Homo sapiens: one gene and its partners. The protein of the gene in region 4 purifies or fractionates together with the protein of the main gene of each other region. This does not show direct contact. Each region holds a gene or a part of one and is shown on either strand. Other genes may lie near its edges.

Region 1 (4,232 bases), on a different chromosome or scaffold from region 4:
GATATGATTTCAACATAATTACTGTTTATTTAAAATAAGAAAAACAAATAACTTTCAACCATTAAAAGGTTATAACACTTTAAAGGAAAGTTTCTTATTAAAGAAACTTTATACCCTATTAAGGGTATAATTTCAAAATAATTGCTTTTTATTTAAAATAAGAAAATATTCTTATTTCTATTTAAAATAAGAAAAATCAGTAACCTTCAACGAATAACAGGTTAAAGAATTTAAAGGTAAAAGACATTTCAACTAATTACAAATACTTTGTTTTTTTTAGTTGGGCTACATTTTACCACTCTAGGAATAGCTGTTAATTATTTTTTATATAGGGCATTTTTATGTATTTAATGTTGACAACTGACGTTTCCAATATACAAAAACTTGTGTAACTGAGAAAATTATAATAAAAATAGAGATTGAGGACATATTTTTAACATATATCCATGAGTCAACACTAATATTTAATATTTGAGATTTGAAAAATTATTTCTAGGGTAAGAAATTCTGTCACAATATAATATCTCTATATTGTGCTTTTTTAAGAGATAAATTTTTGATGAATTTAATGTTAATTAAATTTTATCTCAGCCTATCACCATCAGACCAAAAGACAATACAGTATTTTTCTAACAAGGAAAAGAAAATACATATATATATATTTATATATACAAATATATACGTATTTATATATACAAATTTGTATATATGTAATGTATGTGTGTGTGTATACATATAATTTCTCCTTTTTTTTTTTTGTAAGAATTGAGACAGGGTGTCACTATGTTGTGTGGGCTGGTCTCAAAACACCTGCCTCAAGTGATCCTCCCACCTTGGCCTCCCAAAGTGCTAGGATTTACAATGAGCCACTGTGCCAGCTTCCAACAAGAAAAATATTAAATGTATTGGTTTTTCACAGTGAAACTTAATTCAGTTTAGTTGAACCATATATGTGTGTGTATGGCATATATAAGATGAAAAAAGGAGAAAAAGTAACAATAATAATGATGGTTGCCATCATTCATTGAACACCTATAATGTTTTAGGCATTATACTAGCTGATTTACAAATATTGTCTCATTTGATGCTACATTTATATTTCTATGAGGCAGATGTTGATTTCTCTTTGACTGCTGAAGAAACTGAAGGTCGGTCAGGTCAGGTGATTTGCCCAAAGTCCACACTGTCACTAAATGAACATAGATTGGTATGACTCCCAAGCCTGTGAGTTTTTGACCGTCATATTCTGCCTCACTATGAAAAGTTTTTTTTCAATTTTTTTTAAATCAAAAGAAGTAGTATATGGAGAGAGAGGTGAAAATCCATGTTTGCTCTCTGCAGTTTCCAAACCATTCATGACGTGTTATTTTTGTACTGGATATAGTCATTTTTTAAAATGCTACAAACTGTTCAAAAGAGCATGAACAACATGATAACTCCTTATAATTTTGTTGTAAGATAAATGACTAAAATTATGTGGGATATTTAATTTGGATAAGTGGAAATTCTATCACTTGATAAGCTCTCTTGAAGAATAATTATTTGAAAGATTGGACTTAATTCTGTATTGCCTGAAGTGTAAATCAGAGGTCAACAATTAGATTGCAAATCATGAAAAGCATAACTTCTAATTGTTTAGTCTTTTTAGGGAAACAAGCCCAGAAAAAAAGTAAGATTCTCATTCATTGGAGATAAGATTTCTATTTATCAAAGATACTACACAAGAGTTAGATAGCAAGTAGTTCAAATGTCTTTTAAAGGTATCTGACATCTTTAAAGCTCTGTAATTTTTAAATTCTAAATTTTGTTACAGCTAATTTTTAAAAATTAATTGCTAAGTCATGGTCAAGTATTTCTGATGACTTACATGCTGTCTTTGGTATATTTTAAGTTTCTAAACCAAAACTACTATTTGACTCTATTACACCCTGTTTTAGAAAAACATTTGAGTTATACAACTTACTAAAATGTATTTTAGCGGTGATGTTTTGGAGCACTGGTAATATAGTGTTTAACTTATTTTCTATTTTTTATCCCTCTATATTCGTGAAATTACTTCTATTTGAAAAGTTTTCCGCCAGTGATAAAAAAAGGCTGAGCACTATCTGTAAAAATTTTTAAGGTGTCCACTAGGTGGAGATATTGTGCTACATTTCCAAGTGTTGTAGTTAAACTTTTATTAGTCTGAATTAAACTCTTTTATAGTGTTTTATTGTTTTAAACCACAAAGATTTATAATCATTTATATCTATTTATCTAATGTTATTCAAATGTTTTCTGCGTTGTATGAAGCTAAGATAAATGTAAAAAAAACAAACAAAAAAAACCTCACTTTGTGTTTTGTAATCATTAGACGATTTAACCTAATATATCTTCCCATATGATATGATCTTTGCATATGGCATACTTCATTCATATGACATAGTTAGAATCTTTTCCCACAAACAATGAGTGATGATATCTCATTTGAAAACTCGTGTAACATTGTATCAGCCACTGTTATAAAGTGATTTACCCATGTTAGTCTCATAACAACTCTATGAGATCAGTACCGTACACATGGGGAAACTTAGTATAGAGAGGTGAAGTATTTTTTCCAAGATTACAAAATAACTGTCTGAGCTGGGATTCGTAACCAGGCAGCCTGACTCCAAAATCAATATTCTTAACTCTATTGTTATGATGGAGAAAGGCATGAAGTCTACCTTCAAATTCATGGCATTTTAGAAGGAAAAATTGTCGCAAGTAATGTGATTATACTTCCTAGTTTTATAGGTCAGAAAAATGAGGTCCACACTAATTTTGCCTCTTCCACAGGGAGATAGATTCTCATCTACCATTGTGTCTTTTGTTTCTGTTTTTGTCATGATACCTCAAATTGATATATGTTGTAATTATGAATTTAAGGAAGTAAAAAAATAACTCAGGGCTGGAGCCTTCAGCCATATTAACATACATTGACATAAAGACCTTTGTTTTAATATGAATGATTCCAGTTAACAAATGGAGAAATAGTTGTTTGAAAATTAATATTTAGCTTCTCAAAAGAGACTCCTGTTTGGAAGCAAATTGTTGGTTTAACAGGACATACTTTAGATATTTGAAAAATTCTCTGTGGAATCACAATCTCTTATTTTTAAGAATGTAGGAATATGTGTTCTATATGCTTTTAAGTTATGTATTACATACTATTCTCTAAAATAGAAATGTTTATTTGGCTTCTAAAAGTCATTTGTGAGTTGATGTTATTTAAAACTGCTTTTCAGTCAACTTATTCTTTATAAAAAAGTTTGTTCAAATAGCATGTTTTTATTTTGTTTCTAAATAAATTCATGTTTGATAATATTTTATAATGTGTTGTGTCTATTTTTTTTTTTTTTTTATTGATCATTCTTGGGTGTTTCTCGCAGAGGGGGATTTGGCAGGGTCATAGGACAATAGTGGAGGGAAGGTCAGCAGATAAACAAGTGAACACAGGTCTCTGGTTTTCCTAGGCAGAGGACCCTGGGGCCTTCCGCAGTGTTTGTGTCCTTGGGTACTTGAGATTAGGGAGTGGTGATGAGTCTTAAGGAGCATGCTGCCTTCAAGCATCTGTTTAACAAAGCACATCTTGCACCGCCCTTAATCCATTTAACCCTGAGTGGACACAGCACATGTTTCAGAGAGCACCGGGTTGGGGGTAAGGTCATAGATCAACAGCATCCCAAGGCAGAAGAATTTTTCTTAGTACAGAACAAAATGGAGTCCCCTATGTCTACTTCTTTCTACACAGACACAGCAACAATCTGATTTCTCTATCTTTTCCCCACATTTCCCCCTTTTCTATTCGACAAAACCGCCATCGTCATCATGGCCCGTTCTCAATGAGCTGTTGGGTACACCTCCCAGACTGGGTGGCGGCCGGGCAGAGGGGCTCCTCACTTCCCAGAAGGGGTGGCCGGGCAGAGGCACCCCCCCACCTCCCAGACGGGGCGGCTGGCCGGGCGGGGGCTGCCCCCCACCTCCCTCCCGGACGGGGTGGCTGGCCGGCTGGGGGCTGACCCCCCACCTCCCTCCCGGACGGGGCGGCTGGCCGGGCAGGGGCTGACCCCCCCCACCTCCCGGATGGGGTGGCTGCTGGGCGGAGATGCTCCTCACTTCCCGGACGGGGCGGCTGCCGAGCGGAGGGGCTCCTCAGTTCTCAAAGGGGGCGGCTGCCGGGTGGAGGGGCTCCTCTCAGACGGGGCAGCCGG
Region 2 (4,284 bases), on a different chromosome or scaffold from region 4:
GTTAATTTGGTTTTTTTGTTTGGTAAACAGGTTCTTTGCTGTGTCACCCAGGCAGCCTCGAACTCCTGGCCTCAAGCGAACCTCCTGCCTCAGCCTCCCAAAGTGCTAGGACTTATAGGCATCAAGCACAGCATCTGGCCCCTAAGGGTCCTATCAGGTGAGAGGAAAAACACATACACATTCACAACAAAAGGATGAGGGACCACCAGACTCTAAGACCGTCACACAGTGGACAGTCAGCAATACTACAGTATGCAACACAGCTCTCAACTCCAGGAAACACAATTCATTTTGTGTTGTATGTGAACAGCATCCCCTGGAGTTGTGCAAAGCAGTGATCCTGGTACACAAAGTTAACAAGGTGAGATGTTCCACTAAAGGGAGTTTTGTGAAATGAGAGGACAAAACACTAGCCACATTTAGATTCAGCCCTTATTAGCACCTTGAAGTACCAGAGAAGTTCCAAACTGCATAAACCAGCATATCCTGGAGTTTGGTTGTGCCTCTTTCCCCCAGGAAATCCCTATTAATATTTTTTGGAACCAGCATTCTAAAACACAATTTAGAAAACACTGAGCTACTTTATAAAAGGCCTTCAGAGTCAAGTTGTATTTTGATAAAGAGAAAAATAAAAAAAAGATGAAAGTTTTAGTGAAGAAACTGTGGTTTAAAATAGGTTATTGAAAAACAAAAGAAAATTCTGGCACAAATATGAAAGGTAGATTAAAGCAGCAGATCTGAGAGTTTTGAGAGTACAAGATTATTATTTAAAATCCTCCTGAGAGAGAACTCACTCACAGGGTTAATACAATGAATAATAGATCCACATTGTTAATAAAAAAGTATTTAAAAAGCATCTTTCAAGTTAAACAGTCAAATCTTCTTTAAGACCTATTTTTTTCAGAAAACATAAATTTGACTCCTAAATTTATCAGGTCTGTACAGTAGTCATGCCAGTTTACAGTTAGGCAGTGTAATCTCAGATTTCACAGTGTAAGCAAGCATTGGTCCATTCAACACTACCTTTATTTGTTCCCTCAGAGGCCCAGGTGACAGTAGTATTACTACAAAAGCAGGTATCCCATATTTTAAGAAACCATATTGTTGGAAGTCACTGTACTTAGAAATACCAAATATTCTTATAACTAAAAACACCACATACGATTTGGAATAGCTGACACTGTCCTAGGAAAAATTTAATAGAAAATAGCTTTTAAAAATATGGCAAAAAAAAATGTGCCCACAGTTTATTTGGACCTCTCTGCCAAAAATATTTATTAATTTAGATTACCATAAGCTTTAGTAAATTACAAGCTATGATTCCTAAATAAACCTTAAGGTGTAGCCAACAAGACTAAGTTTTGGAACAAACAAAAACAGGTTCCCAACAGTCTTGAGATGAACCTGCTTTGAAATTAATTTTATTATAAAATATATTTTAAATGCAGATACAGGCTATTTGCTATACTGTTATAAATGAAGCAAAAAACAACTGCATTTCAAAACTGGTCTTAAAGAGGAAAATTATTAAAGGCAGGTAATTCACGTGGATATGGTATTAGATAAAATAGTTCCAAAAGTCAGAGTAGATTGGTGAACTACACAAACGGTTATTTAACATTTAAGTGAGACAGCAGTAACTTCTGTTTTAATGCATAAAATAGTAAATTATCAATTAGTATGCTATCACTAATATTCTTGGAAGATCTACTTGCTGTTTTTGAAAGAGCAACTGCTTGTTAACTAAAATTAAAGAGAGCTATCTATCCACTAACTTATGTCCTTTTAGTCTGAAGGAATATCCGATCTTTTCTTCTAACAAAGAGCTAGACTAAAGGATAAACACACACTACTGTAAGGATACAGCATGCATTATTTTTATGAATATAAACTCTGGTGTCTAAGTCATTTGAAAATGGCAGACATTAAGACATGAAAATAAAAGAACATTCTCTAATAGTTTACAGTGCTTAATAAGTAACTTAAGTAACCACAGATGGATCTTCTGAAAGACTGGGCATACATAGATAACAGAAATATTTTCAATTTATCAGTTCTAGGATTGTCACAAAAACCATCGACATCAACAAATCAAACTTTGCTACTGATTTAGGTATCTCTACCATGTAACTTTAACTTAGTTATAAATGCAATGTCAATGTTTCTCAAAATGCAGACTACTGTAGCATTTGGCCCCACCTCAAATCTGCTGAATCAAAATTCCAGGGGCAATGCCAAGGAATCTGCACTTTCAGTAACTCCCCCAGGTGATTCTTCATGCACATTAATGCTGGAGAACCACACCTTTCTTGTGAGATTTATAACCAGGTTTTGGATTTCAGGAACTAAAACCTCCTCATTTGGAACCTTTTAAACTAAATTTCATTACAGAACAAATGAATATTTCAAAGAGATTTAGGTAATAAACATGTTATAGTATAAAAACAAGTGCATAAAAAGTTACAGCAGAAATTTAAAGAAGAAACTTTTAGTACAGCACATTTTATTTTTATTCAAGATTTAAGACACCCCTAGGCCAACAGTTCTTTGAAATCAAAATTCCTAACTTAAAAAAATCCACAATATTAAAAATATAGTATTTCAGATACGTTCACATTCACTCAGCTGTTAAGTAAATCAAAACACAAACTGTTTGTATTACACCAAATATAAGTAATGATTAAATTTATAAAGCTCAACCCAAACAAACCCATTCATATTTCTCTATTAAATTTACTCTGATCAAAACTGATTTTCCATACATAACTTTCATAAACTTACATAAACGTGTATAATGAGAAGAGCAATGAGCAAAATCTAGAAGCCACCTAAAGTCCAGTTTGGGCTAAAAAAGCTGCTAGCTATATGACCTTAGGGCCTAGACAAATCACTTTGCCTACCAGAAAAAAAACAAAAAACAAAAAACAAAAAAAAGTACAATTGTCTGCCTTACTCACCACACAGGATTATTGTGAGAATCAAATGAGGTCATATGTAAATACATTCTGAAAACTGTAAAGTAGTTAATAATAATACCTGTGATTTCTGAAGACAGCAAAATTTGAGAGACACTATCTTTGGGCACCTGCTGTAAAATACACAAACTACCACCAGAAAAATTAAAATGTATATGCCACTAAAGAATCAACGAAGAACATAAAAACTGACCATTCAGATTTAATTAGATATTGGACACTATTGAGTATACCGTATTCTGAAAAATACAAATACAAAAATTCGATTCGATTACCTGTCCTATGTCCCCATTTATAACAGAACCATTTCTTGTGTTAAGATATAAATGAAATGTGATGGACCACGAGAGTTGGTAATTGTCAAAACTGGCCAGTAAGTATATCATTCTCTCTACTTTCCTATGTTTGATAATTTCTATAATAAAAAATTTTAACAAGACAACAATATATGTGGTATGTATAGATAACATTTCTAAAAGCTAAAAAGTGAATTTTTTAAAGTTATTTATCTTTATGAAAATTATTCCCATAACCATTGTATGTTATTTTCCTGGCAATGTCACCTCAGATTCCACCTAGTCCCAAATAAGCTACTATTAGTACCTTTATTACATATCATGACAGCTACTAGAAAATAATTATTCCCTTCCATCTGGTCAATACTCTTGCCCGAGATGCAAAAACCTAAATGTTTGTTTCTGCTTTCTGATCCTCAGTCCTTTTATTGTTTTTTGCTCATCCATTACAAAATTCCAGAATAAAAAAGTGAAAACATCAATTTTACTGTATTCATGTGTAAAATGTAAGGGAAAAAAACCAAATATTATTTTGTTCAATATTACAGAAGACCAATAGTTATAAGTGGCCGTTCCTTTTAAAACTCATTTCCCATGGTAAGAGACTGTTGCATCTGAAATGAAGTTAACATGTCTGTCAGTCAAAGGAAATTAGTAAATCTTACTCTGAAATCAAGGAATCTATGAAAGTATATATAACAACATATAATTACTCTACATGCAACAATCTAATAGCTCAAATAATGTCCTTTATCCCGGGGCCATATTCCATAGTTCGACAGAGAACACATAGCAGTAAGGGGATAAAACACCTTTCATCTCAGAGTTTTTGGCTAATTTTAGTTTAATAAAGACTTATCTACAGCTCAATAGCCAATGCTTTACATTGTCTATAGAGAAATTGCAAGTGTTGAATGAAACCTTAAATGCAGATAGAAGGGCAGTAATATTTTGCGGTTTGTAAGTAAGACTATATGTAATAATATCCACATCTTAATTCATTACTTGGGAGC
Region 3 (4,284 bases), on a different chromosome or scaffold from region 4:
GGTATTTTGGGTATGTTATGGAGCACTTCAGCAATGAAAGAGGGCAGAGTACAGGATGAGGAGGCCTGACATGTAAAAAGAAGGAAAGACAGATGCGAGAAGCCAAGTACACCTATCCTTTAATCCCTTTTGAATCTCACTCCTGCCTAGATTCTACCATTCATTCTAATTCCATGAAAACAGCATGCCATGTACTTTATGACACAGGAGAAAATTTCTCCTCTAATCTTAATGTACAGCTTGATTACAATCGGTCCTCACCTGACCCTTTGTGCTGGCCATGGTCTGAAGCATTTAGACACCCAGCAATAATTATTGGAAAGCTCTAAGGCTAATTTATGTCATTAGAAAAAAGCTGGACATAAGGGTGTTTTGCAGGCTACGATAGCTGTCAGTGTCAAAGGCCAGGACTTAGAGTTAACATTCTGTAATTAATCCTATCATTTTTTAGCCTAAATAGAATAATGTTAAAATAGTATTATTTATTATAATAGAATAATAACTCTACCTCTTTTTTCTTTAAATTTTTTAGAGGGAGACTCGCACCTGATCACTCAAGTAGTCCCTTCAAACTATCCCCAGCTTCTCCAAAGCTACAATGAAACAAACTGAAACTCAATCAGTAAATATTTAAAAGAGCTTTAAAGAGAAAGGATATCCAGATTTAAGAGCAAAAGAAAAAACAATGTTAAGTTTCTTACCTAAAATAAGTAGCAATGCAGAGAATTACCACCAACATAGGATAATATATATAGAATCCATCTGCAATAAAGGATAAAACTTTCATGGAACCCATAATCTGAAGAGCAAGAAAAAAGTAAGTTAAATTGGAATAGCTCTATAATTTCCATTCCTTTCCATCATTAGAAAATTTGCCTATAACCAGTTATATCAATCCATTTGAACTTTTTAAAAAGTAGAAAAAAAGCAGTAAATGGACTTATTTTTTAAAATCTGCTTTTTATTGAGGTTTTCTCTTAAAGAAAATTAATATAATTATTACTCAAAATTATCACATACATTGACTACAAATATAAAGTTAATATTAGTATAGGTCAGTTCTTTTGATACTGGTCAGCTAGACAACATATATGAACCAAAAAAAACATTTTTATCATAAAAGAAGGAAAATCACTTTTATCTAGTCAATAGTAATACGTATACAATCTTTAAGAGAAAATTTTACCAATAACACTATAGAACTTTTCTGCTGGCATTAAAAGAAATTTCACAATAACAGCACCTCATATAGATAGTGAACCTAAGGAATTCTATTTTCTGACCGTACTTACAGATGTATAAGCAGTTGGTTGAGTATTCTTGTGAGAGATAGATGAATCCATATGGGTCAAACCCAAGAAATTAAGACATAAAGGAGGTGTCAAACGGCAAAATAGCCTGCAACAAACATTTAAAAATATGTATATAAAAAGTAAAGCAGCAAAATACATTTTATAGTATACTGAGATGTATTAAAAACATTTCAGATAATTATAGCTAAAATTTTCATCTATTTGCTTTATATATATATTGAATTCTTAATGTGACCTGCCCTCACTTACTTGGGAGATATTCTGAAAATTGCCACATCAATGCCTACGTGACTACAGCCTCAAGCTCCTTGCTTTTATGGTTTCTGCCATTGCTTTATCCCCACAAGTTGTGGAGTGCCTTTGTATCATCTCCTACAACTAAGCCATCCGTAAAATCCATCTCACAGCATGACAAGGACAGTAACATCCTCAAGGTGAATTGTATTCAGTACATAAAAGAACTGAAGTTGTATCAACATATGTCATTCTGACAAGCACAGATATAAAGTTGTTCAATTCTGTCCAAATAAAAAGAATGCCTTACAAACCCACACACTTGGATAATTGGGGCTGGGGAGAATAAAGTGTGGGTATGAATTAAAAAAAAATAATATGAGATAATTCTTTTGTGGTGATAGAACTGTTCTGAATCCTGATTGTGTTGGTGGCTACAGGAATCTACACACACACACACACACACGAATGAAGGATAAAAAATGGTGAGAACTAAATAAAGTCTGTAGTTTGTAGTTAATAGTAATGTTTTACTCTCATTTCCTGGTTTTGATATCACTGGGGGTAGCGTGAAGGTTACATAGGACTTTTTGTGCTACATTTGCAACTTCCCATGAGTCCATAATTATTTGGAAAACAACAAAAAAGATGCTTAAAAATACTTTGGATGTCAACTCCTCTATAAAATTATCTAAGTTCATCCTTTATAAATACCTAATAGGACTCATTTAACAATAAGAACAGGTAATAGATTGTACAATCTTGCCCAACTTGAAGACATCTCTCTAAATCCTCTCTGAATTCCTCAGGAAAAATTGTTCTTGTTGGTTTTCTCAGTCCTCCTCAACTCAGTGAGAGACCGCTGAATCTTAGAACACCATCTAGGTCTGACTTAGTCTCTAAACTGTCCATTGTTTCTACTGCTTGCTAATCTCTGGTTGGTAAATCCGGGCTCACTAAGTATGCTTCTTCTGCCTTCTAGCCTAACCTAGCACACCTATTTTAACCTTAAACCTCAAGCAGGAAGTAGCTGGCAATCAACAAACATCAATTTAATATTTGAAACTAATCAATTAGCTGATAGAAATATAGATGTTAGTGGAACACCTGTAAACAACAAAAAATAAAAGATCCATAAGAATACACTCAATGATGACATTTCTCTTGTTTCTAAACATAATCCTACTTACATGCCACTGAAAAGAAGGCTATAAGCATCAGTCTGGTGATGTGAGGCCAAATAATAATAGTTAAATACACGAATCCTGAACACAGTAGAATAAACACAGATACTTAGGAAGAAGATGGAAAGGAAGCAGGCAATCTGGAAAAAAACAAAAACAAAGCAGTTTGTTTAAAACAAACAGACTTTAGCACTTAACAATTACAGGCATTATCCTTCATTTCTTTTTCTTTTGTTTTTTTGAGATGGAGTCTCGCCCTGTCACCCAGGCTGGAGTGCAGTGGCGCGATCTTGGCTCACTGCAACCTCCACCTCCTGGGTTCAAGTGATTCTCCTGCCTCAGCCAACTGAGTAGCTGGGATTACAGGCATGTGCCACCACGCCCGGCTAATTTTTGTATTTTTAGTAAGATGGGGTTTCACCATGTTTGCCAGGCTGGTCTCAAACTCCTGATCTCATGATCCATTCGCCTTCGCCTCCCAAAGAGCTGGGATTACAGGTGTGAGCCACCACGCCCAGCCTGGCCTTCATTTCTAGCTAACATTTATTGATGCTCTAAAATTGAAATACAGTAATAGAGAATTTTTTAATCACCCACTAAGATTATGAAAAAAACCCAACACTTCAAACTGTTTAACATCCTAGATCCAAAAGTTTCGAATCTACCTTCTAATGTGAGCCTGTTTTCCCATTCCCTTGGCAACTCTTCACATGAGGCCTATAAGTTATGTAGCTTTACTGGCATAAATATAATCAAAGTATTCCCAGGGCCAAGTGTGATGGATCCTCCTGAAGCAGGACGATCACTTGAGTGCAAGAGTTCCAGACCAGCCTGGGCAACATGGCAAAATCCTGACTCTACAAAAAATACAAAAATTAGCAGGGGATGGTGGTGCATGGCTGTAGGCCCAGCTACTTGGGAGGCTAAGGTGAAGGTGAGAGGATTTCTTGAGCCCGGGAAGTTGAGGCTGCAGTGAGCCATGTTCATGCCACCACACTCCAGCCTGGGTGACAGAGCAAGATTCTGCCTCCAAAAAAAACAGAAAGAAAAAAAAAATCTCAGATTTCTGCACTATCTTGCAACTTTTCATCTCTCCTCAAATACAGTTATTAATTTCTATAGTGTGGGTAAAATAATGAAGCACATTTCTGGAAGTTTGAATAACAACACTGCAGAAAACCTCACTGCTTTCATTTTTACTAGAAGAAATACATGGAGAAAATAGTTAAGGATTATACTATGAAGTGACATCTATTTATGACAGACATAAAATAAACTGACCTCGATATAAATATAATTATATGTTTTTTCTGCCAGCTGTATGAAGACCGCAAAGAGGGATAAGACAGGAGTAGTGCTAAAGAATGTGCACTCTGACCACACAACAATCACAGAGAAGATGGACAGAACCACAGCAAGTATCTTGTAAAACCATGGTCGCAAAAGACATTCCCAGTACCATTCTAGAAGACAAAAGAAAAAAATGATTAGGAAAACTACAAAAGAGTAATGGGATATTTACATTGTTTCAAAATAGCTCCTAATAAGATACT
Region 4 (4,891 bases):
TATATGCCAGAAGTTAATTAATAGCTTGAAAATAATCAGACACTTCATAAAGCTGAACATCTGCCAAAAAGCGGGTATTCTGAGGTATGTTCAGGAAAGTTTCCAAGTGTATAATATTTGTTTCCATAGTTCCTTATGTTGTAATAACCAAAAAATAGGTAAATCAATTTTAAATAAAGCAATTTAACAAACTCATATTTCCTTTATATTTTGGAGGAACTCCAAACTTGCAAGAGTAGAACAATGTCCTTACTTACTCTCTTGGGATATCTAAAATATCTTCAGTCCTATAAGATTCTTTTTTAAAATGAGGAATGATTCTTGTTCTGCTTATTTTTACATAACACCTTTATCATCAAACAAACTTCAAGATGTGTCATCTTTAGTAGGAAAACATATTTCCACCTCATCCTCCTGTTAGACTTCAGTCTACTTAAGCCTATTCTCAGTTTAATGGGATTAACAGAAGCAAATCACAATTTAAGACTATAGTTTACCAACCTTCCTTTCTCTTGTTCAGTGAAATTCCCCTGATAATCCATCAGTCAACCCCTGCTGGCCTTGAGAGGCGCTCTAGAAGGCAGGAGAAGGGCACACAGGCTCGCTTTTTGAACTGAAGAAGGGTTTCATTTGGTTTAGAATTGTCAAACTTCAAAAAATAAATAAATAACTTAAAGTGTTTTTCAAATCAGCCATAAGGCTACAAACCAGAAAGAAAAGTGTGAGGCAGGTGTTTGGGGCAGCTACCCAAGTTGCCTACATGGTTTCCAAGGTCCTTTCAACTCTAAGGTTTGTGTATCAGGCTGTCTACAGATCATACTGTCTCCATAAGATTGTCTAGTTCATTTTATGGCTAGTTTGAACAATCTGATTTTCTTTTTTACAATGGCAGGGGCTCAATCCATGTTAGGCTTCAATGTTGAGTCACCCAAGTTCTCCACAGAGAATAACCAACCAGCCGTAAGGAAGCTTCTTTTAGCAATGCCAGGATTCTGCAAAGTCCCTCCCAGCTTAACTTTTCTGACCTTGCGGCAGCAGAACAACAAAAAGAACAGCCCCTGGCACCCTCAGAAGAGCACAAAGCCCTCTGACAACCTGAGATGGCGCCCAGGTAGACTTCCCTCAAAAAAAAAAAAAATGGCAAGGCTGCTTCAGCAGGTCTTTCAGCCCCAACCACTCCACTCTCCGTCTCCTTTTCTTCACTGCTTTCCCCACCTCTCTTCCCCCCTTCCACTTTGACCCACCCCAATTTTCGTCCACTTCTCCCTCACCCCTTCCTTGTAATCTCTCTCCTTGAGGCATCCTGTGGATGTTGACTGTAATCTCCCCTGGAGGAGGGCTAAGAAATGCACCTCCAGAGGGTCTGTTTGCCATTGGAACCGCGTAGAGAAAGCGTGCAAACCCGTCAACTGCTCCCGCCGTTCCTCTCCCTCCTCAACCCAGGCTCGCTACAGAAGAAGGGAGTAGGGTCTGCCCCCTTGTTGTATCTATTTTCCCCTTCTCCGCCAGGGCTGTGGCCGGCAAGGGGCTCAGGAGGTGAGTCCCTTGCCCACACCTCCAACCCCGCTGGCCCGGTTTATAACATGGACAGCCCTGCCCTCTAGTGTCTGCAACCGGGAGCCCTAAGGCGCCATCAGCTCCAGAATTTCTCTTTTATAACCTAAGCAAGACCTGGAGTACCTCGGAGCTGCGACCTCCAGTTCACAATACCACCTGCCTCACACCCGGGCTCATCTTTTCATCCCACACCCACCACCCCCCTCTCCGTTCACGGTGTCCCGGGAGGCTGCGACCTGCGTAGATGATTTAGCAGACTGCCCCTGCCCATGCTCCTGCTCCTGCTCCTCCTCCTCCTCTTCCCCGCTCTCTCCCTCTCGCCTCCTCTTCCAGTCCAGGCGCCCAGACTCGGCGAAGCGCAGCGCCTGCCACCAGCGGTGCCTCGGGCTGCCCGGCGCGCCGCGCTCCCAGGTTCTGTCTCGCCGCACCCCGGCGGGCACTGGCGCGGGCAAGGACGCTGGCGGGGAGAACGCCCTGGGCTCAACGTACTCCAGAATCGAATGTTGAGAGAAGCAGTGCTCTGATCCAGCTCAGGAGAAAAAGGAGCGGGTTCCGAGTGAGACTTCTGGAGCCAGCTGGACGTGCCGGTTTGCCCAGTGCGGCGCGGCTGCACGCACCGTCCACAAGGTGAGGGGCGCACACCTTCCGGGACGACCTTGGCTTCCCTTCTTACCCCCACCCACTCCAGGTACTCCAGCTCTGGCTTGGGGATGTTTGCCAGCTTTGAGGCGCAAAGGCGGCGGGAGTTGGGATGCGGGGTGTCGGAGGGAGACTGAGGGTCGCCCGGGCACCGTGCCTGCACCCTGGATTATAGTACAGAGAGCATTTCTTGTTCAAACAATTCCTCAAATGTGTGAACCTGAGAATCAACATTGTGTATAACTGTGGTTTGAGCATTTCATCCTGCTTCCTTGCAAAAGGATTAGAGGCAGCTTAAAGATTAAATAGGTATGGAACGGGTGCTGGGGGGGGCCAGGGAAAACTTGAGTAGAAATCACAGGGAGGTGGTGTGCTCCAGGGACCCCGGAAGAACTGTGTGATTTCAAAGCCAGCTGATTAAAAAACCTTTGATTAGAAAGGACTGCACTGTTGCTCCAGCCCTCAGAAAATAATACTGTGCTCAGTCCTGATAAACAAAATGCCCAGGTGTGGAGGTAATGAGGCAGGCTCATTTTTTTTAAAATACAAAATAAATCTTGGAAGTAAGAGTTAAGATGAGAAGTTTGGTCTTAAGCCATCTCCACCCAATACTGCAAGGTGAGAGGCTGACCCCCTACCTAACGAAAAGGAAAGGAAATTGAGTCTAAAGGGAAGTGATTCCAGCTCCTATCACAGGATCATAGTGGTTTTGCATCTATATGTATATTTCTGCCTGTGCCCAGTTTTGGAAGAAAGGACCTTGTATTCAACCCAACGCTGCTTGTCCTTGAGTTAGAAGGATAAGGCAGATGGTGTCAGCATCCCAAGGTGTTTCTTCCTAACCTTTCTTATTGTCCTTCCTTGCCTCCTGCACCAAATCTCTTGGGGAGGGAGCAGCCCAGGAGGAAATAATAGATCGTCAAATGGGTTGGGGGAGCAGTGTTTTTTCCAAAATAATTTAGGCTCATTTTATCATTCTTATGTTTTCCCTCAAAGCTCTAAGCAGTACATCGTCCTAAGCTGAATTTAACATTGCTCCAGAATATATATTTATCATAGTTGTACATTCAGACACAATATGCATAACCTTAAACAGCCAGGATGCACTTGTGAATCAGGGGCTTCCCTTACTTAATCCTGCGCAAGAGAGGCAAAGCAGGCACGTGGGTCTGATTCCCTGTGCGGTCTCCTTCATGAGGAGCATATGTGAAATACCTTTGAAATACAGAGAAGATTGAGACAGCTTTTCTCTTTCTGGTACAGTTGCTTTCCTGCTGAATTAAATGAGATGACCCTGTCTTCAACAAATAAATGAATGGAGGCATTTGAGGCCCATTTAACAAATGCACAAAATATGCCTGCCTCTGTTTTTCCTCCCTTCAGAGCTTTAGCCTCCAGCCCACGGAGTTGTGATGATGAAGCCCACCTCCTAAGTGGGACTCAGCTCAGTTTCTGTATCATATTTAAAACAGAGTATGTTGCTTATTTCTAAAATTGCATAGCACCTCACCACTAACTATTTTGCTGCATAGAGGTATTTCATCACTAAGAGAGCTATATAGAGAAACTCACTCAAATCCTGATTCATCATTGTTGATAGAACTTAACTATTGTGTCATCATCACCTGACATGGGCTGCAGAAGCTCCAAGGATTGCTATAGATCTCAATTGAGACTTCTAGTAACAGAGCTAGAAAGGAGCCTTTTAAAGTGTAGCCATGACTCTGGTCATTAGGTATATGCATGTTCAAATATTCCCTTACGTGCTTGTTTTCGCTTTCATAACAATTTCCAGGGATGAAAACTTAGCAGATTATTTTTATAATGAAGAGTATTCAAATTAACAATGTGTATCCACCAGCTAACAAGTTTTAAATTCCACAGAAATCAGCATCACAAGCATAGTAAAATCAAGTTTTCATTCTTTCCTCTTCTGCCATAATGACTTCATTCAAGGCCTAGTCCCAGACCAAGTGCATGGAAACGATGGCTCATGTCTCTCAACATTTGCCCAAGGGAATGGTGCCTACCTTGCAACTCAGCGTGATGTCACCTTTATTAGCCATTCTGGTGTCTATACAAAATATTTGCTCCCCATTTCTTCTTATCGATGCCTGGTCAGCAACAATCATGTAAATAAGTTTCCATTCTTTTGAGGAAGATAACGAAGTCAGCGTTTTTCAGAAGTGGTGCCTAGGAAGAGACAAAATCCAGGACACACCTCTAGTTCAGGTAACACTGCAATATATTTCAATTTCCTGCTGCGTGATGGGGTTATTATTGAAGAGGGAAGTAAGGTATATCATTCACAGCACATTGTCCCCACCTGGCTCAAGCACCACCCATTCCCCAGGTGGGCTCAATATGCTACCCCCACCACCACCAAGATACCAAGGCTGCAAATGAAAAGTAGATCTCAGCCAGGCATGATGGGTCACACCTGTAATTCCAACACTTTAGGAGGCCAAGGCAGGAGGATCACATGAGCCCATGAGTTCGAGACCAGCCTGAGCAAAATAATGAGAACTCATCTCTACAAAAAAATTTAAAATGAGCCAAGTATAGTGGTGTGTACCTGTAGTCCCAGCTACTTGGGAGGTTGAAGTGAGAGGATCGCTTGAGCCCAGAAAGCCAAAGTTGCAGTGAGCCAAGTTTGTGCCACGGCACTACAGCCTAGGTGACAGAGCAAGGCCTT
Region 5 (4,284 bases), on a different chromosome or scaffold from region 4:
GTGCATCATATTTCTCTGAAAACTCCTTAGGGTCCACCTCCTCCAGGAAGCCTCCTCAGATTGCCACAGCCTACCAAGAATCCCCCTTCTGAGTTAGCCCTAGGCCTGGAGGTTCCTCCTGGCTTCCTTCTAGAGCTCCCGGGGCGGGGCTGGGAGCTCAGATTCTCTTTTGCCAGTCTGGGGAAGGAGGAAAATAGAGGCAGAGCTTCTGAAACTCCTACTGTGTGCCAGGAACTACACTGGGCATTTTGGAGATCCATTTCTACCACTCTGCAAGGTTAGCCCTAGGGGACCCACCTTACAGATTGGGAAACAGAGACTCGGGGGATGTGACTTGCTGTGAGCCACCTAGCTGGTAAGGGAAGGGTATGGAATTTAAATGGAGATTTTCTCTGGGACATGAAGCTATCAAGACCAGTTGTCCATCTGGCACTTGGCTAATCCCTAACTCTCCCCCACGTTCAATGCTCAGCCAACTTTATTTGAACATCTCCAGTGACAGGGAGCTCGCTCTCTTCCAAGAGGGCACATTCCTTTGATCTCTAAGTTTTTCATACCCACTGAGTCAAAGGGAAAAGGACATAAAAACTGTGGTACGCCCCAGACAGGGCACAGAAAAGAACCAGGGGTTAGAACCCCCACCGAGGTTTTCGGTTCCAGGCCAGCAGATAGGGTGGGGTTGCTCAGGGGTGCAAAAGGTCCTGGGGTCTCAGTCAACCAGCTACAAGCACTTTCTCAGAGCACAAGTGGGGAACCCCACTGGCAATCACATTCTGAGGGGAGTCCAACAGAGGAAGGGGCTTTGGGATGATTTCTGGCAGAGGCCATGGGAAAGGCAGCAGGGGCTTGGGGCTGAGGGGATGGTGTCTCTGCAACTCCCCTTCTCCCCCGCCCCTCCGTGGAGCAGAGCCAGGAGGCAGCTTCAGTCAGGAGGCTGCTATTGTCTCACTGCAGGCCCAGAGCTGGGTCCCATTCAGGCCCTATTTTTGGCCCCCGGAGGAAGAGGAAAAGAAAGCAAAGAAAGGACTTGCTGTTCTCTGGTGAAACCTTCTCCCGGAAAGGCTCACAAGGCTTGCTGGCCGGAGAAGGCGGCCTCTGTTGCATCAAAGGATCCTGTGCTTAAAGGGAGCTGGCAAGGGGCTGTGGTTCAGGGGACCTGGGGGGAGGTACAGACGAGGCACACCACGCCTTTTACATACACTTGGCACTCACTTACAACAGCAACCCGGAGAAACAGAGGCACAGCTTCCCCAGCCCCACCCATAGTCCCTAAACATCCCACTCATAGTAATAATAAAAATAACTGCAATAGCTCATTGCTGCCCAGAGCCAAAAGCCAAAGCACTGTCTTACTTCACACCTACAACATTCCCGACCAGGGTCGGGGCGGGGACTGAAATGATGAAGCTCATTTTGTAAGTCAGAGAACTGAGGCTCAGGGAGCAGCAGGACTGCTGAAATCACAAGCCAGTGACCACAAGCCTACTCCCGTCCCCCAGCCTTACGCCACCCCATCCCTTCCTTGCAGTCGCCAACTCCAGCCACTCTAGACTTCTGTCCTCAGACACACCTCAGGGTCTTTGCGTGCACTTTTCCCTCAGCATAGCACATCCTTTCCAGGACCCTTTCCCTGACTGCCTCCTTCTCAGGCCTCAACTCAAATGTCCCTTCCTCTGAGAAGCCTTCCATGACCACCCAATTAAAATTATCTTCCGTATCCATCACTCGCTTCCATGTGATTTATTACCCGTATTGGCACCCAACATTGACATGACTCTGCCATTTGCTTACCTGTTATCCCTTGCTCAGCTTTGCTGTCTCACCTGTCTTGCTCACCACCTGCATCTCCAGTACCTAGCACAGTGCCTGGTCCATAGAAGATCCCCAGTGACTGCTGGATGAGTAAATGAAGACTGAGACGGAGCTGGGACTCTAACCCAGGGCAGGCAGGCTCCACACCTCTTCCCAAAAGGAGCCATTCCTGATAGATACTAGATAGCCATTCCTGATAGAAGATCTAGAAGATCCAACCCAAAAGTGCCACTCAGGCTATGTGAGGGGTAGGGGATAGGGGATGGAGAGGGTTCAAGCACTGAGCCATCTCCACTCTCCAGCATCTAACAGGATCAGGAGCACACACACCTCTGCCGGCTGCTTGGCCAGAGAACGGTTCCCAAGACTGTGCATAGCCTGATAGGATCTGAAACACAAGGCAAACTCCCCTTTGTTTTCCCGATAAAGGCTCTGAGAAGTCCCACAGCATGGAAGCCTGGGAGCGCATGCCTTTCCTATGCCACTGGGGCCACAGACAGCTTTAATGGCTGCTGGATTAGAAGATGTCTGAGATTCCATCTGAATCTGTGAGCACTGAACCTTGGATTTTCTCTCTACATTAAAGCAAAATTACCACCCCCAAGACCCTCAAAGGCCCACTCCTGTGGTTCGGGCCTAAGGGGAGCCCAGGTAGCAGATGTGCAAAGAAAAGTGGGTCCCGTTCCCATTGCTGCAGACCCCAAGCTCCCACCTGGGCTCCCCATGGGCTCTCCAAGGTCAAGCAAGGAGGAGAAAGGGCACGTGCCTATGGCCATGGGGTCCTGCGATCTAGCAGGCTGGGGGTGGGGTGTGTCCCGAGGACTAGTCTGCAGAGACTCACGAGGCAGAGCTGGGGCAGGGCAGGGAGCCACGTACAAGTGCAAACCATAGGATATGCACTTGGCCTCCCATGCTTCCAGGGCCACTCTATGAGGAGGTACTATCATTCCCATTTTATAGCAGGGACACAGGGACACGGAGCTTGCCCAGGGACACAGAGCTCGTAAAACTGGATCCAAAGGAGCATGGTGCACTCCTTTCCCTGGGCTGCCTCTGTTGTCCTGCATGCCCTGGCAACGACATGGAGAGTCGGCAGCAGCTACTCCATAGAGAGGGAAAGGGAGGCTCAGAGGGGCTGAGCCACAGGGCCCAAAGCCTCACGGCCCAGGGAACAGGGGCGGGGTTGGACCTTGCTCACTCCTGTGCTCACGTGGTTTGCAAACACTACCGTCCTTCCTAGATCGCAATCACTAAAGGTTCTGACTCCAGTTTCCCAAACCCAGGTAGGTAGACAGAGACGGGACCCTGGGGCATGCCACCACCTGCTGCAGGATCTCCATGAAGAGACACTGGCTGTCCTCCCCCACCATGGCTGGCAAGGGTGCTGCACTGGTCCCAGCTCCCACCACCTCCACTTAAGGTGCCAGGAGGCAGGCAGGAGAGGAGCTGGAGGACAGACCGTGTGCACCTGGTCCCCTAGGTGTGCACACAGGTGGCAGAGTCCCCCAGAAGGTGTGGCCAGGACAGCCATGGCATAGGATAAGTACAGCTTTGAGGAAGCTGTGCACGAGGGTTTCTTCCAGCTTTGCCCACTGCCCATGGCTCTAGGCAGGTGGGGGGCAGGGGAAGTGCCATGGGGTCAGGAATGCCCCTATTCAGGTTCAAGCCTGTTGGATAAGGGAGAGCAAGGGGTCCTGAAGATTCAGGAGGTGGGTGTCCTGCCCTCCTGACCTCCCTCAGCCTCTCCCTGTTCACTCCAGTCCTCTTCAGCTGGGTCCCTCTCCCCCTCTGCTCCCTCCCATCCAGCCCACTGAGCTATTTACACATGGACAGGGGTCTCTGAAGATGCATTCATGGCTTTCATGGTGGAGGTTCCTTGGAAGAACCTTGCCAGACAGCCAGGCTATGAAGAGGGTTTCTAGATAGAGGCACCACCTGCCCACAAGCATGGCCTGATGCGGCTAGAAAGACCCATGTGATGCTTAAGGACATAGCGACTCCGGGGAATGTGGGAATTGGGTGCCCATCTCCCCCAAGGCTAGGAAAGCTCAGGGCTGGAAGCAGCCATGAAGAGGAGCCCCATGCGATGCCAAAGTTGCTTCTGCAACGCCCCTGCCACACTTGAACACCTACAAAGGTGGGGAACTCACTACCTATCATGGGAATGGCCATCTGTGGTACTCTGGGGAAAAGTCCAGGCTAAGAGGCAGGAGACTGGGTTCGGGCTCTGCTACCACTGACTGCTCCGAGCTCTTGGGCCTGATTCCTCATCTGTGAAATGTGGATAAAGTTTCAAGTCTTAGAGGGCCAGCAGCACTCAAGATTGAATGAGGGTCTTTGTAGGCAGTGAAGTGTATGCCCCAGGGGCGGAAGTTTGGGCTGTGAGTCGCCCCTGAACTGTTTGGCCCGTGCCCAGATGGTGACACAGCAGAGGAGCAGTGGGCAGAGGGCACAGGGCTGAGCATGACTCAG
Region 6 (3,380 bases), on a different chromosome or scaffold from region 4:
TTAGCTGTATCTGGTATTAATTGCATGTTAAAACACTGGAATTTTTAAAATTGAAATTAGATCAGTCATTCTTTTCTTTTCTCAAGATATCTCATGGCTGACACTGAAGAAGAAATGTAATTCATAACTTGCACTAAATGTATATTTTTTTTCTTAAAAATTTACCATTCTTATTTATATTTTTATGGATTAAAATTTATAAAATACAGATCAGTTAATATTGCACTTAAGTAATTTTACCTTTTTAATGTGATTTTTATAGAATAATTCAGACTTACAAATACAGAGATATGAACAAAGTTTACAGTGGGAACAAAGGTTTAAAAAAAGGTTGTGGTTCTCTCTCTGTGATCCAGTGTGCACATAAACCTTTCTCTGATCTTTCACTGCCATCCTCTGGATTATGTCTTCTGACCTGTCCATTTTGACCCATTAACTGGAAAGTTGAAAAACTACATTAACTGGAAAGTTGAAAAACTACATTACTTTGGAGAATAAAACCGAAAGTTCGTGTATACCTTCTTAAAAAAAAAATCAAACCAAAAATGTGAAAACAATAGAATTGCAAAGATAGCAGTTAAAATTTTAATCTGAAAATAACCTTTGAATCTCGGGCTAGGTTACGTCCATATTTGAAGTGGTCAGTGATGGTTTGAACATTTTTTGCAGGATGAGTGAAAATGCACTGGATTATATTTGGGATTTTTGTTTTTGGAATTGTCTGTTTTAATCACAGCCTTAATTCACAATTGGCAAAGGCAGTTTACTCAAAGGACTGGGCTAAATATTCTGTAATTATGCATTTTTGATAGGAAAATGAAATTTTTGCAAACAGACATTTTCTTTTTTTTTGGCTGGAGTGCAGTGGGGCATGGTCTTGGCTCACTGCAGCGTTGACCACCTGGGCTCAAGTGATACTCCCGCCTCAGCCACCCAAGTAGCTGGCACTACGGGCACACGCCACCATGCCCAGCTAATTTTTTTGTATTTTTAGTAGAGATGGGGTTTTGCCATGCTGCCCAGGCTGGTCTCAACTCCTCAGCTCAAGCAATCTGCCTGCGTGAGCCTCCCAAAGTGGTGGAATTACAGGCGTGGGCCACTGCGCCTGGCCCAGACAGACATTTTCTGAAACACAACTGGCAATGAGCTGTTTTTACATTTTGAAAGTGATTCTTCACTTCCTAGTTCTTAATTATAGTATACCTATTAAGATCTGTAAGATCCTGAAGACATAAGATCATGAAGCCATATAAGAATGAGGATTGAAAGTTGAGCAAAATTTTCGGGATTTTGGGAAACATTCTTAGCTGTGCTATCTGCCTAAAATTATTCCTTATTACTTCTCTCCTTTGACAGACTTCAAGTTTTCTTCATAGCCCTTTCAAAGTTTTTTGAGCCATCCAGAGTAAAATCATTTCTAAATGATAGTTCTGTATATCTCCAACTCGTCTTAAGTGTATTTGCCTGTGTGCAACGTATTGCTAGACTATGAACTCCTCAGCATGGCTGCTGGATAACTTAATTGTCCTGAGTTAATAGCCTTCAAAGGACAAATCGGTTTCTTTGCAGATAGCTTCGTAAAACTTCACATGGAGTTTATTTTATCATATTTCCCTTTTTTATTTCTGCTCCTCCTTTAATTGCCCATCTTGCTTCAGAGACTGACATTTCAGGGTGGATATTAATTAAAGCATTAATTTTGTTTTTTGGTATATTTCTATCCCTAGTATTTCTATCTTACTGCTAAAATACAGGAAAAGTGCCGTATTTTTAATGCATTTAGTGGTTTTCTTTGGTGTTATCTGTTCCATTTTTCTTTTTCATACATTGAAGTGTGTCTCCTTTTCAACCAAAATAATGAAATAGTGGAGACCATGAAATTGTTGTGCCTGGCTAATTGGCAAATTAATTTACCAATATAATAAGTGTAGCGCCTTGTTTGAATACCCTTTTTGAGAAGGTATGATGAGAATGGGCAAGGGTGTCAGCATCTCTTCTTCTTAATAATTAATTGTTTTCAGTTTTGGTTCACGAAGAATGCTTAGTTAATCTGTAATGTTGCCTAGAGCTGTATTTATCTGTTTTTATTTATACTAGTGTAGTAAAGCTGCATATCATTACAGTAAAAACGACTACTGTGATGAGTTAATCAGAAAATCTATTAAAATCTATATGACAATGTGTGGTTTGGCCTTTAATTATATCTGTAACAGTCCTCCCTCTTCACTGCTGCCCTACGCAGTGTAGGCCGATATGCCTGGCACAGGGAGCCCCAAAAAGGTAATAATTATAATGCTTCTCTCAGGTTACAAAGCATTTCTACACTTTGCAAGCAAGGAGCAATAGAAGAGTAGATAGATGCTGGATTGACAGCAGGATGTTCATACCACCAGCAATGGTTTAGCGCCCCCATTTGTCAGTGAAAGCTGCAGGTCCACAGAAAACTGATTTCATTTCAGCTCACTTTCAAAAGTGATTTTTTTTTTTTTCGCAAGAAAAATTACGCTATTTGCATGAAAAGAGGTAAAACGATTTATTTACATGTCTTTAAAAAATCACCTTGGACATTTGCTAATAGAACTGCCAAAAGAGGGTGGTAAGTAACAACCTTTGATTAAGATGTGGTCTTTTACTATTAAGCTTTTAGTAAAAAGGAACACACTAAAAGTTCAGAGTAGATCATTTATATTCACTGAGTATTTACTGAGCAATTACTGGGCGCCAGGCGCTATTCTATGTTCTTGAAGTTTTCATTCCAGCAGGAAGAGAAATCTAGAGTATGTCAGATGGTGATAAATATGGATTAGTTCAGCAATTTTAAAAAAGGATTTTTATGTACTGCACACTGTTACGAATATACAAAATCAGTCAAGAATCCTGTTATAGTTTTTGTAATGTACAAAAAGTGAAGGTGTGTGCACCCACCCCATTTTTATAGAGGGTGATCAGGGAAAGCCTCAGGGATAAGGAAGCATTTGAGCAGAAACCTACAGAAAGTTAGAGAAGGACATTTATCCGTGAGAAAAAATGTTGTAAGAAGAGAAAATGCTATATACAAAGGATTCTCCTGCCAGGTTCAAGGAACACTGAGTAGATCACTGTGGCTGGAGAGGGATAAGAGGGAAGAAAGTGGTAAGGAAAGAGGTTGGGGGTGTAGGCATTTGATTTTTATTCTAAATGAGAAGCCAGTGAGGCAGAAAAGTCACATAATGTGACCTAAAATATCTCTCAGACTCCTTTGTTGGGAATAGACTATAAGGGGGCAGGGGTGGAAGCAGGCTACCAGCTAGAAGGCTCTTGGAATAATTCAGGTGAGATGTGGTAGAGATCTGAACCTGATTGAAGCTGGTGGAGGTGGTGAAAGCAGTTGGATTCGAGAC
Region 7 (4,284 bases), on a different chromosome or scaffold from region 4:
AGTGCAGTGGTGTGATCGTGGCCCACTCGATCTCCAGGGCTCAAATGATCCTCCGATCTCAGCCACCCAAGTAGCTGGGATTACAGGCATGCACCACCATGCCCACCTAGTTTTTTTTTTGTTTGTTTGTTTTTGTTTTTGTTTTTCCATTTTTTGTAGAGACAGTGTCTCACTTTGTTGCCCAGGCTGGTCTGGAACTCCTGGCCTCAAGCGATCCTCCTGCCGAGTCGGCCTCCCAAAGTGCTGGGGTTACAGGCATGAGCCACCACATCCAGTCCAACTTACATGTTTTAAAAGTAGATTTCTATTCCATTAATTGGAGACATGGCTTCAAGGCCAGCCTGGCCAGCATGGTAAAACCTGTCTGTGTGAAAAATACAAAAATTAGCTGGGCGCAGTGGCGAGCACTTGTAATTCTAGCTACTTGGGAGGCTGAGGCAGGAGAATTGCTTGAATCCAGGAGACAGATTTTGCAGTGAGCTGAGATCACGCCACTGCACTCCAGCCTGGGTAACAGGGAGACGCCGTATCAAAAAAAAAAAACAAAAAATGGAGACGTGGGGATAAACTAATTTTTTTTCAAGAAGCAAGTGAGTCATCAAGAAAACATGATTTTAACTTGGGTCTTCTGATTGTCAGAACATTAGGGCAATCAGACAAAGAATATTTAAAAGTCTGTAATATTTCCATCTGTTTTCTAGCACCTAACTTTACCCCCAAATAGATCATTAATGTAAGGAATACTTTTTGCATTTGATTTTTCATTTTATGTCTTCAGATAACTTATTTATTCAGCAAATACTAAGTTCAGTACATAGATAAGTAGGTTGCCGTTGATTACTGTTTTGAAATAAATGCCATAATAAAGGATTAAGCAGAGTTTTGTGGATATAGTTCTGCCTGGAATAGTTGAAGAAAGCTTCATGGAAAAAGTAACCGCTAAAACCGTATGTCAAACTAAGAGGCTGGGTTCAGTGGCTCACGCCTGTAATCCCAGCACTTTGAGAGGCTGAGGCAGGCCAGTCACTTGAGATCAGGAGTTTGAGACGAGCCTGACCAACATGGTGAATCCCTGTCTCTACTAGAAATACAAAAAAAAATTAGCTGGGTGTGGTGCTGTGCACCTGTAATTCCAGCTACTTGGGAGGCTAGGGCATGAGAATCGCTTGAACTTGGGAGGCGAAGGTTGCAGTGAGCTGAGATCACACCACTGCACTCCAGCCTGGGTGACCAAGTAGACTCTGGAAAAAAAAAAAAATCTAATAAAAGGCAATGTATGGTACTGTTTAAAAAAAGTACACGATGTAAAAGGATAGGAGAGTTTTCACAGAAGAGGGATCAGTTGGCAGAATTAGAAAAAACATCTTAGCCAGGCATGGTGGCTCACACCTGTAGTCCTAGCACTTTGGGAGGCTGAGGCAGGTAGATTGCCTGAGCTCAGGAGTTGGAGACCAGCCTGGGCAACATGGTGAAACCCCATCTCTACTAAAGTAAAAAAAAAAAATTAGCTGGGCATGGTGGTATGAGTTTGTAGTCCCAGCTACTTGGGAGGCGGAGGCAGGAGAATCTTTTAAACTTGGAGGTGGAGGTTGCAGTGAGCCGAGATTGTGCCACTGCACTCCAGCCTGGGCAACAGCAAGACTCCCTCTCAAAAAAAAAAAAAAAAAAAAAAAAAAAAATGTTGACAGACCAGCCTGGGCAACACAGGGAGACCTAGTCTCTACACAGAAATAAAAAATTAGCCAGCTGTGATGGTGCTCCCCTGTGGTCCCAGCTACTCAGGAGACCTAGGTGGGAGGATCATTTGAGCCTGGGAGGTTGAGGCTGCAGTGACCCGTGATCGTGCCACTGCACTCCAGCCTGAGTGGCAGAGCAAGACTCTATTCAAAAAATTAAATAAAAATTGTAAAGCTGAGAGAAAGTTAATGGGATGTATATTTTGATGTAGAATATTCAAAGATATTGCATAGGAATTGGCTGGACCATGTTGAGGGATATGTGAATGCAAAATTGGGGACTTTTTAAATGCTCTGTATCTTATAATTTTGTGATTTTTACTGCTACTCGTTCTAGGTTGTTTTAGCTTATTAATAATACAGTTTGGGCATGTGAGGAAATAGGTGCTTATTATTAAGTTTTGTGTTCAGTTGGACTGTTTGCTTTTTTTCCCCAGGTTCCATATACATCTCTATAATCAAGATAGCCTCATTGCTTGTGTTCTGCCATACCACGAGACAAGAATATTTGTGCGAGTCATACAGCTTCTAAAAATTAATAATTCAAAGCACAGATGGTTCTGGTTGTTGCCAGTTAAGGTATAATTGCTGAATGACATATGTCTGTAATCATTACAGATCTTGATTAAGGGATTTAATTAGGAAAAAATAAGTCATTGCTCCTGGGGATAGTCCAGATAACTACCTCCATCATTTTTATTTCCTGACTTCCAATTGAAACTATTATTAATGTTAATAATATTTAGCTTTTATTTAGTATCTGACATCAGGCTAGGCAATGTACATTATATTATCTTGGATTATCACAAAACTTCATTTTTACAGATGAGGACAGGCTACTTGCCAAAGTTCACATAACTATAAAGTGGCAGAGTTGAGATTTGAACCCAAATCTGATTCCAGAGTCTGTGCCTTTGTATCGTACCATGCCGTTTGGCATTTTAAATTTGGAACTGAGAACTTAAAAAAAAGTTGAAGGTGAAGAAAGGCAGAAAATACTTACAAAAATTAAAAGGATAAGGATAACTTCAGGGGTTTCAAGAATTTACTAAAGTTGTGAGGAAGATGCTAGGAGTTAATTTACAGACTAAGAAAAGGATGCTTGTATAACAGGAAGGGTCTGGGTAAGAAAAGACAGCATGCTATTGTAGGAAAACCAACTGACTAACCGTTAGCACTTTGTTTGCAACATATGGTGGAGGAAAGTAGATGTATGTTGTTAGCAGGAACTTGACTGCATGTTGGGCATGGTGATCCAGGGTAGGGGGGGAGGCAAATGGGGATGAAGGTAAGCTAACAGATCACGAGGCTGTGCACATTAGGCTGATGATGGTAGTGGGGTCAGTGTTCAGAATTAGTAAGATAGGAGTAATGAGGACTTTTTAATTAGAAGGAGAATTTAAGAATCTGAACGTAAAGCACTTGAACTAAAGAATGTTGGAGAAGGCCAGCCTTTGATAAAGCTCATTAACTGCTCTTCCCAACATTCACTCTGCCCATAGCATCAAAATTATTCTTCCTCTAATCTACCTTGGATCTTGCTGCTCCCTAGGCACTCTTATTGCAGGTAGCCAAACTCCACTCACCTACTAAAGTTCACTTAAAATTCTCCTTTCATTTATTTAATCAGTATTTATGGAGCATCTATTACATACCATGTACAACGCTAGATGGTGGGAATAGTGGTATAAGTTGTGCAGTTTCCTAGTCTATTTCTGTTCTTAGTGTTATTGTAAAGCAATGACAGAAGCGTATCATAGTGGCTCAGAAACCAAATCGAACCAGTAAAGTTACTAAGAATCTAGAGAATCCAGATTTTGATAAATACCTTTCAAAATGTGACATACGATAAGCAAACATCTTTCACTAAATACCTCTGCCCTCATTGCTGACCTTCTCTTTTGAATTTCTAAGTTTACATGATTTTATGTGTTAATTTCATCACCACCACCAGTTATAAGGAGAGATTATATTTTTTATTTATGAATTGTAGCAGTATGAAGACATTACTAGGGTAAATGCTTTAAAATAAGGATCAGTTGATGAATGTTGCTAGTAGTTTGTTCTTTCCATCAATAACAGCAATCTGGAGTGCCGTTAGCTAAAGGAACTTTGATTACCCACTGCTACAAAGATCTTGGATTCATGGATTTCATTTGCAGTTTGGTGACAAAATCTGTGAAGGTGAGCAGTCTGTTTCATGAGTATATAATTTTATGAAAAGATTGCTTGCTTTGAATGAAGAAAACATACTAAAACATTCCCTAATAACAATGATACTTTGGATAAATTTATTTTGTTAAATGGTCTGGTGTTTTGAAGCAGGAGCAGTTTGAGAGTCCGTATCTTTTTTTTTTTTTTTAAGAATCAGTCTTTTATCACCAAAGGTGTTTTTCTACAAAAATAAATGTCTATTCCTTGCCAGATTCTAGTTACAGTGACTATTCAAAGAGAGTGTCTAGAAATGTCGGGAATATTCAACCTGGGAAAGCTGTTTAAAAAATTTTAAGGCCAGGTGCGGTGGCTCACGCCTGTAATCCCAACACTT

What was found.
Region 1: the proteins of HTR1E (region 4) and ALG10B purify together in Homo sapiens (co-immunoprecipitation; one large-scale study listed by IntAct). This does not show direct contact.
Region 2: the proteins of HTR1E (region 4) and ATP2B1 purify together in Homo sapiens (co-immunoprecipitation; one large-scale study listed by IntAct). This does not show direct contact.
Region 3: the proteins of HTR1E (region 4) and LMBRD2 purify together in Homo sapiens (co-immunoprecipitation; one large-scale study listed by IntAct). This does not show direct contact.
Region 5: the proteins of HTR1E (region 4) and ADGRG1 purify together in Homo sapiens (co-immunoprecipitation; one large-scale study listed by IntAct). This does not show direct contact.
Region 6: the proteins of HTR1E (region 4) and CLCN3 purify together in Homo sapiens (co-immunoprecipitation; one large-scale study listed by IntAct). This does not show direct contact.
Region 7: the proteins of HTR1E (region 4) and HEATR1 purify together in Homo sapiens (co-immunoprecipitation; one large-scale study listed by IntAct). This does not show direct contact.

Annotation. Positions count from the first base shown.
Region 1 is NC_000012.12:38,326,377-38,330,608, forward strand, and holds the end of ALG10B (dol-P-Glc:Glc(2)Man(9)GlcNAc(2)-PP-Dol alpha-1,2-glucosyltransferase), read left to right. Parts: 3' UTR 1-3,345; downstream 3,346-4,232. UniProt on the Homo sapiens protein: Dol-P-Glc:Glc(2)Man(9)GlcNAc(2)-PP-Dol alpha-1,2-glucosyltransferase that operates in the biosynthetic pathway of dolichol-linked oligosaccharides, the glycan precursors employed in protein asparagine (N)-glycosylation.
Region 2 is NC_000012.12:89,701,708-89,705,991, forward strand, and holds part of ATP2B1 (plasma membrane calcium-transporting ATPase 1), read right to left. Parts: intron 1-4,284. UniProt on the Homo sapiens protein: Catalyzes the hydrolysis of ATP coupled with the transport of calcium from the cytoplasm to the extracellular space thereby maintaining intracellular calcium homeostasis.
Region 3 is NC_000005.10:36,113,723-36,118,006, forward strand, and holds part of LMBRD2 (G-protein coupled receptor-associated protein LMBRD2), read right to left. Parts: intron 4,195-4,284; coding exon 4,013-4,194; intron 2,872-4,012; coding exon 2,738-2,871; intron 1,399-2,737; coding exon 1,293-1,398; intron 800-1,292; coding exon 702-799; intron 1-701. UniProt on the Homo sapiens protein: Recruited to ligand-activated beta-2 adrenergic receptor/ADRB2, it negatively regulates the adrenergic receptor signaling pathway. May also regulate other G-protein coupled receptors including type-1 angiotensin II receptor/AGTR1.
Region 4 is NC_000006.12:86,935,640-86,940,530, forward strand, and holds the start of HTR1E (5-hydroxytryptamine receptor 1E), read left to right. Parts: upstream 1-1,888; 5' UTR 1,889-2,184; exon of another isoform or gene 2,185-2,245; intron 2,246-4,891. UniProt on the Homo sapiens protein: G-protein coupled receptor for 5-hydroxytryptamine (serotonin). Also functions as a receptor for various alkaloids and psychoactive substances.
Region 5 is NC_000016.10:57,634,346-57,638,629, reverse strand, and holds part of ADGRG1 (adhesion G-protein coupled receptor G1 isoform b precursor), read right to left. Parts: intron 1-4,284. UniProt on the Homo sapiens protein: Adhesion G-protein coupled receptor (aGPCR) for steroid hormone 17alpha-hydroxypregnenolone (17-OH), which is involved in cell adhesion and cell-cell interactions.
Region 6 is NC_000004.12:169,721,007-169,724,386, forward strand, and holds the end of CLCN3 (H(+)/Cl(-) exchange transporter 3), read left to right. Parts: 3' UTR 1-2,667; downstream 2,668-3,380.
Region 7 is NC_000001.11:236,597,514-236,601,797, reverse strand, and holds part of HEATR1 (HEAT repeat-containing protein 1), read left to right. Parts: intron 1-2,173; coding exon 2,174-2,315; intron 2,316-3,818; coding exon 3,819-3,920; intron 3,921-4,284. UniProt on the Homo sapiens protein: Ribosome biogenesis factor; required for recruitment of Myc to nucleoli. Involved in nucleolar processing of pre-18S ribosomal RNA. Required for optimal pre-ribosomal RNA transcription by RNA polymerase I.